2 separate regions of the Homo sapiens genome follow, and region 2 is linked to region 1. The links come from fine-mapping of genetic effects on plasma protein levels. Region 1 holds a variant in brackets. A gene starts in the other region. All regions are shown on their reverse strands. Region 1 overlaps MSR1 (macrophage scavenger receptor 1). Region 2 holds the start of LGALS3BP (galectin 3 binding protein).

The links. PIP is the chance, under the fine-mapping model, that this variant and not a neighbour inherited with it causes the effect. Protein levels are from antibody-based Olink assays in UK Biobank. Linkage for the fine-mapping came from a reference panel and not from the study's own genotypes, which makes the PIPs less certain.
Region 2: it holds the start of LGALS3BP, and the variant in region 1 is fine-mapped to the plasma level of the LGALS3BP protein (UK Biobank, PIP above 0.99).

The regions. Positions count from the first base shown.
Region 1 is chr8:16,183,265-16,188,642 of GRCh38, reverse strand. All of the region lies in intron 1 of MSR1 (macrophage scavenger receptor 1), which reads left to right. Among named protein-coding and RNA genes, the nearest start is that of MSR1, 6.7 kb to the left of the region's middle. The variant A/G (reference allele first, on the strand shown) is at 2,745.
Region 2 is chr17:78,977,050-78,982,427 of GRCh38, reverse strand. It overlaps LGALS3BP (galectin 3 binding protein), which reads left to right and starts at 2,505. Exons shown (of 6, transcript NM_005567.4): 1 at 2,505-2,604; 2 at 5,214-5,288. The coding sequence starts at 5,237. RefSeq lists an enhancer at 1,479-2,471.

The DNA.
Region 1 (5,378 bases):
GGACAAACTCCTAATGCATGTGGGACTTAAAACCTAGATGATGGGCTGATGGGTGCAGCAAACCACCATGGCATATGTATACCAATGTAGCAAACCTGCACGTTCTGCACGTGTATCCCAGAACCTAAAGAATAATAAAAAAAATTTCAAGTTTGAAAAATTCGTTTGAAATATTAAAATAATGAGGTGATTTTAAGGAAAACGCGTAATACCAAATGATACGTGCATGATGATATGAACTATGTTACAGGTATACATACATCCAAAGACTCGAGTTTCATTTAAAAAATTAAGGGTTTTTTTCCTTTATTAGGGTGATGAGATGACAGAAATTTCATCCTAACATATCTATAATATTATTAAAATGTTTTATAATAAAAACAAAAAAGTAAGGTATATGGTTCCCAACAAATTAACCTTGAAATTCTTTCATTATGAATTTCCTGTAAACTTTTCATCCACTTGATAAAATGCTGATATTACAGAAACGTGTTTCACTTCTCATGAGCACGTGCTTTTAATAGATTACACAAACTCCAAGGATTTTACAATCGTTTATCAGCACACTGACATTTAATAGGAAGAGTAACTTTATGTGAAGCTACTTTTTGTCCTAACTGTGGAACTGATATTAAAAGGCACACTTGAACAGTGTGAGTTGTTCACTGCCTGCTAATGAAGGCTCATGCAAGTATGTATGTTCACGTTACTAAAAAATTACAATGATTATAACCAGAGTAAGCAGCTGAAATAATCTGGTAATTTTAATAATAAATGCTTTTGAAGCAAAGTGGGTTCACTGAGGGTAATATTTTTTGTTTCAGTTTGCTAGTTACGTGCAGTGCAGAGAGAAATATTTTATTTTCCAATATGTAACAGAAGAATTTTTAAAATCCCTACTTTAGTGAACCACAAAGTTTTCTTGAGGCATAACCTAAGATATAAAATCCAGTCATCTTGAAAAATATCTTGCCTTTCATTTATTTATGTAATTTTAAATACGGCATTATGTATGTAATGAGCACCTTCAGGAACTCTCTGATCCCTGAACCAAAGAGATCAAAAGTCCACATCATGGATCTGGCTTGGATGAGAGAAGACAGATGATAGACAAGACAAATAAGGAATATATGTTTTTGGGGGAAAGAAAATGAAGCCAGGGTGGGGAAGACAAAGCCCCAAGGGGTTGTAGGTTGAAAATGGATGTTCAGGAACAGTCAGCTTGCTTGCTTGCTTGCTTTTTCTTTCTTTCCTTTTTTTTTTTTTTTTTTTTTTTTTGGAGACAGAGTTTTATTCTTGTTGCCCAGGCTAGAGTGCAGTGGCCTGATCTTGGCTCACTGCTACCTCTGTTTCCCAGGTTCAAGCAATTCTCCTGTCTCAGCCTTCTGAGTAGCTGGGATTAGAGGTACCCGCCACCACACTCAGCTAATTTTTTGTATTTTTAGTAGAGACAGGGTTTCATCATTGGGCCAGGATGGTCTCGAACTCCTGACCTCAGGTGATCCACCCGCCTCAGCCTCCCAAAGTGCAGGAATTACAGGTGGTCTGCTTTTTTGAGTCAGACTTTAATGACGGCCTGAGTGAGACGAGAAGGCATTCAGGGGCTTTGAGCATGGGAGTGACTCAATCTGCCTTACTTTTTAAGAGGATTCTTCTGGGAAGTGTGTGGAGAATTAATTCAAGAATGTAAGCGTGAAAGTCAGGGAGCTATTAAAATCAACAAGGTGAGGCCATGCTCAATAGCTCATGTGTGTAATGCCAAAAATTTGGGAGGCTGAGGTGGGTAGATTGCTTGAGGCTAAAGAGTTTGAGATCAGCCTGGGCAACATAGTAAGACTGCATCTCTAGATGGGCATGGTGGCATGCACCCGTAGACCCAGCTACTCAGGAGGCTGAGGTGGAAGAATCACTTGAACCCAGGAGGTCAAGGTTGCAGTGATGTGATCACACGGCTGCACTCCAGCCTGAGCAAGAGAGCAAGACCTTGTCTCAAAAAAAAAAAAAAGAAATGTCACGGTGAAAGGGATGATGGGGCTTGGACAGGATGCTAGCAAGGAAGTGACAAGAAGCCCTCAGTTTCTACATAGCGTTTGAAAACAAAGCAACAGGGTTGGATGAGAGATTGGATGTAGTGGATGAGAAAAGGCGAGGAAAAGAAGACCTCTAGGTTTGCACCATATTAGAATTCTAAGCAGGGGTGTTGTTAGGCAGTGCATATATGGGTTTGTAGTTGAGAGACGAGCTATGGGCAAGAGATAAAGACTTAAGAGTCATCAGCCTTCTAGATTATATTTAAAGCAATGAGGCTAGTGAGATCACCAAGGGAGTGAAAATAGGAGAGAAAACAGAACAGAAACTGGACCCTGGCTCACTCTGCTGTTGAGACGTTGGGGAGATGAGGAGGAATACCCAGAAATAAATAAAACTCCCCTGGATGTGCTATCTCAGTGCAATCATCAGTATCTCTCTTCTCAACAAAAAACCGTGAGCATGAACAACTTTCATTTATGCACTCAGGGACTTTCATTTTTATACATTTATTACTGCCAATCTTGCAAGGTTTTATTTCTGCTTCTACCACACAGGAAAAACAACTTAAATTCTATGTGGCAGGTTATGGATTTCTTGCAGGCCACGAACTTCTTTGTTCTTTTCCATGACCCTGACTGCTTCTTGTTTTTCTCTTGCAGCGTCAAAAAGTTCTTCCTTGTCTTTTGTGCTGAGTCTTCTTCCTCTACTCACCC[A/G]CTGAATATCATGTTTTTCAAGTTTATGTGTGTGGTGTTTTTTTTTTTTTTTCCTGAAAAAAGGTATCTTCTACTGTTTGACTTTTTCCCTACGATTCTTTGTTAAAATGCTGTGTTTTAGATGCTATTAATTTGTCCTCTCTCTTAATGCCCTTGGATTTTCCTCTTAATTGTCTGCACCATTGCTGTTACCCAAGATGCCTGGCTGGAGTAGATAAAAATAAGCCGAAGTCCAAAAATTGGAATAGAATGGAAGGAATGGATCAAAGGAAATCAGGAGTTTTTGTGCAGTCAGATATGGGTCTTATAGATGAGAGCGGTCTAGAAAAGCAGTTCTGGGCTCAGATTGCGTGACTGTGCTTTGCCGGCATATTCCTAACTATATCACATATTCTCCACTATACAGTAAGTAGATGATAATAATAAGTGGGTATGATAATAAATAGATGATGTAAATGGATGATATAACCACAGTGAAAATCCTGGAAAAAGAAAAGTTAGGTTGCTGTAGAAAATCCACGTTTGTAGCTAGTTGTGTTATGTAAAACAAAAGCTGATGCTGAGATTGAGATCTGGTTTGGCTATATTGGCTTGATCAGGACACAGGCAGTAGTTCAAGCCATGGAAGTAGATGAGATTCTCAGAGAGACTGTGCAGACTAAGAAAAAAGAAAGTAACATCAGAAAATGCCACAAATCCTATGGCTTCATTATCTCTGATGAATGTGAGCTTTTTTTTTTTTCTGGAAAATATACATACCAACATTTCGTGCAGTTCATGATAAACCAATCCCTTTTGAACATTGCCCAGAAAGCAAACAGACTTCCCATGGTGCACAAATGTAGCCATAGGGAATATTGTTCATTCCTCATTGCACTGAGTATGCTTCAGTGTTCACCTCCCTTCTGGCCCACTACACCTGTCAGGGGTATTTTATAGACTAAATAGTGTCAGTTAGTCTAAATCACTCATAGACATGTACTAGGTGGTTTTCCTTTTTCAGAGATTAAATAAATCTTCCCAAGGTAACCACGGTTTAAAATATAGTAATCCACAAAATATTTATTATCACTTCTATATGCTAAAAAAAAATAAATCAAAGGTTAGAAACTTAAAGAAAAAACAAAATCAAGCTTCATCTCTAGTTCAAAGTGAAAGGGAGAAAAGCAAAATGTTTCATAAACAATATATATTGTCTCACTAATAATATTAATCCAGGTCACTACTGCCAAAGCAAACAATAAATTTTTACTTCATTTGTATAGATAGTAATTCAATGTTATATTTTGGGTAGGTTGTGAAAGCCAGATCAATTTATGCGATCAGAAAAATAAAGGAAGAAATTGATGAGTCGGATGCTACCGGCTACATGCCTCTCCAGCCTCTTCTTTTTGAACCTCCTTTGTACCTGTTTAGAGAAAAAGCATAAATAGTGTACTACCAACCTAACTAAGGTTATTATAGTCTGTTTGTTTAAAATACCATTTTTTTCTCCTTTTGTCTTTTTCCCACTCTCGAAGGTACTCAAGAAAATTGAACAGATGTAATAGATCAAATTAAAACATTTTATTTCCTGAAAGCCTTTTTTGCCTGTTGTAATGTGCAGGACCCCTCTCCTTTAATGGGAGAGACAGGAAGTTACCTGAATCTAGGCTGAAAAGGTTATGTGAAAAGAAAGTATAATAATAAAAGGGACACTTGGCTTTTTAAATCTTTGTTTTCTCTTAACCTAAGTAAGGCATATTAAAAATAAATGTTAAGGTGAAAAATAAATGTTGTCTTTATGAAAAATTAAAACTGCTCTCAGTTCCATATTGTTCATACCTTCATGCTTTTTAACATGATATTTTCCATCCTGGAATGACCTTACCCCAGATTCTGCTCATTTTCAAAACCCTGATTCATTGTCATCTTTTCTGTATTCCTACCTTGATTACCCACTTCCCCAAAAGAGTTAATCACTCACTTTTGTACTATGCCTGTGCCATATATATATATATAATTATATATTATATAATAATATAAATATATTTAATATTATATATTGCCAATTCTATGATATATAAAATATATAATATATAATATATTTGCCAACTAATATAATATATAATATATTAACATAATATAAATTACATATAATTATACATATATTTATATTATATATTATATAATTGCCAAATATATATGGTATTACATATAATATAATTGGGAAATATATATTTATAATATATGTTATATTAATATGATAATATATTTATTATATTATATATTATATATATTATATATTTGCCTATTATATAATATATTATGTAATATATTAACATAATATAAATTATATATTATATAATGTATATATAAATATGTATTACATGTTATAGATGTAATTATATAATGAATATTTATATCTATATAGTTATTCATCTATTCATATATGAATATTCAGCATATTCTATTTATTCAGTATATTCAATATTTATTTAATATATTCAATGTTCCAGGTTGCTTTAGGCTGTAGTGACATAATGTGGACAAAAGCAGACATGGTCCCTACTCGTTCAGAGTTCAGAGTGTAAAGATGTTTATCAGATTCAAAAGTCTTCAGCTTTTTTCACAAACGGTCTTACCTGGTAGATA
Region 2 (5,378 bases), not on the chromosome of region 1:
CAGAGATTGCAGTGAGCCGAGATTGTTCCACTGCACTCCAGCCTGGGCAATGGAGGGAGACTGTGTCTTAAAAAAGAAGACAAAATAGAGGGAATTCTAGGAAAGGCAACCAGCAGTGGCAGAAGCTGAGAGGTGGTTGCTGGGAAGGGGCTGGGGGGAGGGGTGGCTGCAGAGGGGCATAAGAGAATTCTTAGGGGTGATTGAAACGCCCTAGGTAATGATTGTTGTCATGATACCATCGCTACACATTTGCCAAAACTTTGCACGTAAATTATATGCCAAGAAAGCCAATTTTTAAAAAGAAGGAAAGGATGGGTTTGAAACCCCAGTTCTTCCCCTACCAGCTGCACAACTTTAGCCGATTACGTCGCCTCACTGAGCCTCTGTTTTCTCATCTGTAACAGGGAATATAAGAGCAGCTGCTTCCCATCATGGCTGGAAGTATTAAATGCATTCATTTGTGGCAAGGCTTATAGTAATGCCTGGCGAAATCCATATTAGCTATTATAGGGAGCGTTCCTCAATTTGCGGAGAGGTTTGGGGTAGAGGCACAAAAGATGACCTTACAGGCCAGTTAACCATTCTCATCTCTGAAATGCCCCGCACTTTCCCTACCATGTCTTGGGAGCGGCTTCCTGATGACAGCAGTTCTGTCCACACGAATCTGAGGCTTTCACCCAGCTGTCTTCTCAGAGCCGAGCCGCTGCCCCTTCCCCTGCCTGTCCCCTGTCAGCGCTTCCCTCCACCCCATGGTCATCGCACACCGGAAAGGCCTTGCGAGCCCCAGGGGAGCAGATGTTGGTGCTCCGATTCCACGAGGAGGCCTCTGGGTTTTCCATTTTACCTGCCTGGATGGCTTAGGACTTTCCCGGACTCTGGGGCTAAAGATTCGGCACCTGAGTTTTAAAACCTTTCCCAGCACTTCCCAGAGATGCCCTCCCGTCCTCTGCACTCCTGTCCTTCCCTGGCCACTTGGGCAGAAGTCATTAGCACTGCTGAGAAGGGATGATGCTGGGGTTTCTGTGCACTCAGGCCCTTAATCCAGATGAGATTTTTTTAAACTCCCCACAGCCAGTTCTATTTCCAGCTGCACCTGCCCCTGGATCTTCACAGTTCCTCTGGAGGGGATTAGGCAAACCGTGCAGCTGCCTAAAACCTCACACCTTGAAGGAAATAGTCATTGAATGTCTGACCTCTGGGCTGGCTGTCTCGGACTCTAAGCTGCCAGGGAACCAGGGCCTTCCACCCAGTGGGACTGCCTGGGGGCTTTTAAATGCCCCTGCCTGTCCCCTACTCCCAGAGATGGTGACTTCCTGGGTCTAGGCATTAGGAGTTTGTAAAACTCCCTGATGATTCTTCTGTCCAGCCCAGGCTGAGAACCACTGGTCAGAGGCCTGGGCACATCCCAAGGCTCATCCAGAACCATGGGGTGCAAGTGACAGAAACAAGAGCGGCTGCTGATTGCCTCACTGAGCGGTGAAGCCCAGCCTTGACCATGGATTAGGCCAGCTGGACCCAGGAGCTCAGGCCGGAGGATGCCTGCTTCCCTCTGCTCTGCCCCACCGGCCCCAGCAGCCTGGGCCCACATCCTCTCAGTCAGAAGCTGGCTCTCACCGGCTGGCTGGGCTCACAGCCCCACCCTGAAACCAGCAGTGTGGCCCGGGGCCCCCGCAGGGCTCAGACAGCCAGGCCTTGGGTGGTTGAAGGCCAAGAGCTGGGGGCCCTCTGGGAACCACACAGCCGGGAATGGGAGGGGGTGCTCCCCAAGGGACAGTTGAGGTGCCGGCTTTCAGTGGGAGGAAAGGGAATGGGTATGAGCTGGACAGAGCCATTATGTCACCCAGAGAGGCTCTGTCCCCCGCCCCGCTGAGGGGGAGACAGTAGGAGAGTGGCCACAGGTCCAGCAGTGGCGAGCACAGGCTCTGGGGTCAGGTGTTGGAGCAGGGTCCAGCTCCTCCACTGGCCAGCTGCATACCTGGTTCTCAGTGCCTCCCTCCCCTGGGGACAGGGGACAGTGCCATGCAACCTTGTGGGGCACAGGCCCTCTGTGTGGTCAGCATGCCAAGAGCACAGAGAGGGTGGATTTGCACATAAGCAGCCCCCTGTGTGGTGTTCACCCAGCCAGCAACGTGCTAGACCCAGGAAAAGACTCGGAGCGCTCTGTCAGAGTCCACAGCCACACCACCAGGTGCAGACTGTCTGGGCCCAGAGCCTCTGCTTCTTCCCCTCCCGTCCACCAAACGCCAGCCCCTGACCAGCCTGGCGGCCTTTCCAACTGAGTGTGGCTGTTAGTCCTCTTGCAGGCCTTGCTCCAGCCAGACTCCCACCTTGGGCCTCTGCCAGCCTGGCACTGATAGCCACAGGCAGAGCTGAGACAAAAGAGAGGGGCCCTGGGGAGTATCAGCAGCAGCCAATCCCGGAAGACATCTATGTCAGGTGGTTTCTGGAAATCGAAAGTAGACTCTTTTCTGAAGCATTTCCTGGGATCAGCCTGACCACGCTCCATACTGGGAGAGGCTTCTGGGTCAAAGGACCAGTCTGCAGAGGGATCCTGTGGCTGGAAGCGAGGAGGCTCCACACGGCCGTTGCAGCTACCGCAGCCAGGTAAGCTCCTGCCTCTAGCTCTCAGGTGGGCACCCCTCTCAGTCTCTCTCTCTTTTTTATTTTTATTTTTTTTGAGACAGGGTCTCACTCTGTCACCCAGGCTGGAGTACAGTGATGCAATGTCCGCTCACTGCAGCCTCTGCCTCCTGGGTTCAAACGATTCTCCTGCCTCGGCCTCCCAAGTAGCTGGGATTACAGGCGCGTGCCACCACGCCCAGCTAATTTTTGTATTTTTAGTAGAGACAGGGTTTCGCCATCTTGGCCAGGCTGGTCTCAAACTCCTGACCTCTGGTGATCCACCCGCCTCGGCCTCCCAAAGTGTAGGGATTACAGGTGTGAGCCACCGCGCCCGGCCAGGGCACCCCTCTCTCTACACAGGCAAGTGGGGGTCATGCCTCCCTGTTTGCACATAGGCCTGGAGCTGGGGATCCAGGGCTCCTGAGTCCAGCAACAATCATTGCTGCTCCCAGGCCCACAGGGCCTCTGTGTACAGTTGGGCAGATTACTCACTGCACAAGGATACCAGCCAAAGGGCAAGTGGGTTAGAATTCAGCTTGGCCCTCTCTCAGACCTGTGCATTTGGCCTAGGCCTGCACCCACTCCAAGGAAGAGCACCTTTTTTTCTGATTTGCACGAAGGGGCCAACACAGGCAGCCGGGTCTCAACTGTATGAAGGAATCAGGCAAAAATAGCCGCTGCCACACAAAGGGCAGCGACGCCACCTGCCAGGTGCTTCGTTGCCCCCCCCCCTTTTTTTTTTGAGACAGAGTCTTGCTCTGTCACCCAGGCTGGAGTGCAGCGGCTCACTACAATCTCTGCCTGCCGGATTCAAGCAATTCTGTTGCCTCAGCCTCCTGAGTAGCTGGGACTACAGGTGCACACCACCATGCCCAGCTTATTATTATTATTATTTTGTATTTTTAGTAGAGCCGGGGTTTCACCATGTTGGCCAGGCTGGTCTTGAACTCCTGACCTCAAGTGATCCACCTGCCCCAGCCTCCCAAAGTTCTGGGATTACAGGCGTGAGCCATCGCGCCTGGCCAGTTGGCCATTTTTCCAAGGCCCTGAGTTACTCTCCCAGGACGGACAAACCTAGTGGCTGCAGCAGAGTGAAGTGGCTGGGGGCAGAAGTGGAGAGGGCGTCCACCCATACCGGCGTGCCTGGGACTGAGGGGTTTCCCAGGACACAGGGAAACTTCAGTGCTAAAACCAGCACAGTCCCCAGCACACAGGACAGGCGGTCACACCCTGGCCCCTTTAGCCATCTACTGACATTGACACAGGGAGGAGAGGTGGGCTCCCCCGAGCAGACCCCCTGCCTGTGGCTCACTGACTGTGGATGTGGAGCCCATTTGCCTCTCTGGGTGTCAGCTCATTCACTTGTAAGGTGAGGTGTAACTAAGGTGGTTCTCAGGGTCACGGTAAGGCCTCCAGTGGTGCCCGGGGAGCCCCGACAAGGGGTGGCTGCACAGTGCCAGCGAGCACGAGTCCCAGAGCAAAGCTGCTCACCAGCCAGTGCACCCAGCTCCCAGGGCGCTTGTTCATGCAGACTCCCATGCAGAGGGGCTAGGGCAAGGCCAGCCATGACTGCATTTCCGACAAGCTCTGGGGATGCCATTGCAGCCGTCCACCAGGCCCCCTCCAAGCAGCCTCAAGGTCACCAGGCCCAGACTCCCAGCCGGTGCCCACAGCAGTGCCACCCAGAGGCCTGCCCCAGGCTTGCTGAACTGAGGGGACAGTGTCAGGTATCACAGGATTCTTACCGAGCCAGAGAAACCATAACTGTCTCTCCATTGGCAGGGTGTGGGGGAGGGAGGCAGACGAAGACAAAAGCGTGGAAATTACACGGAGGCAAGAACACCAGGCCAGAAGGTGGAGACCCGGACCTCCCCAGTCCTGGCCTGAGTGTCAGTGTCTTGGGGATACTTCAGCATTTCCTCCCTGTTCTTCCCCCAGCCTGGCCCACCCTGGGCTGCAGCCCTGACCCTTTTCATCTATCTTCCCCATCGGAACACCACGGAGCCCCGATATATCTCCCTGCCACTTATCTCTGTCACCCCTCGCCCGGATTCTGTGCCCTCTCCTGACGAGTCCCCTCCCATCCACTCTCCAGGCTGCAGCCTCGTCTCTGCCTGCTGAGACCCTCTGGGACAGTCCCTGCAGGGGTCTGTTGCCTGAAGCTTAAGGCCGAGATCTTAACCAGGCTCACCCGGCCTCCCGACCTGGGCCCACGCCTGTGGCCTCCTCCATCTCCCCGCCCATGCCCGTGTGGCAGCCTTGCCCGGGGCCTGGTTTTTTGAGATGAGCTCACTTGCCTCTAGTCACCAATTCTTGCTGCCCTTACTGCCAGGGGGTGCCCCCAGCCCACGCTTCATCTAGCCAAGTGTTACACATCCTTCCAGGACCACACTGCAGACCAGGTGAGGGGCCCCCGCGGGGGCATCCACAGCACACGTCACACTTACTGGGATCATAGTGGGCTCTGCAAGAGAGGGACCCCGCCTGCCACACAGCCCAGGTTGGGCTGAAGGGTGAATGGGCAGGCCAGTCCCTGGGGCCTCGGGCCATCTGGCTCCCGTGCCTCACCCCTCCGCTTCTGTCTGCTGCAGGATCTGGGCATCCAGGCACGGCCATGACCCCTCCGAGGCTCTTCTGGGTGTGGCTGCTGGTTGCAGGAACCCAAGGTGAGCTGAGCCCCTGGGAAATACCAAAAGCAGAAGTGTGGAAGGCTGGTGCACCCTGGGGCTGCTCAGAGCTTCAAGGAGATATTCTGC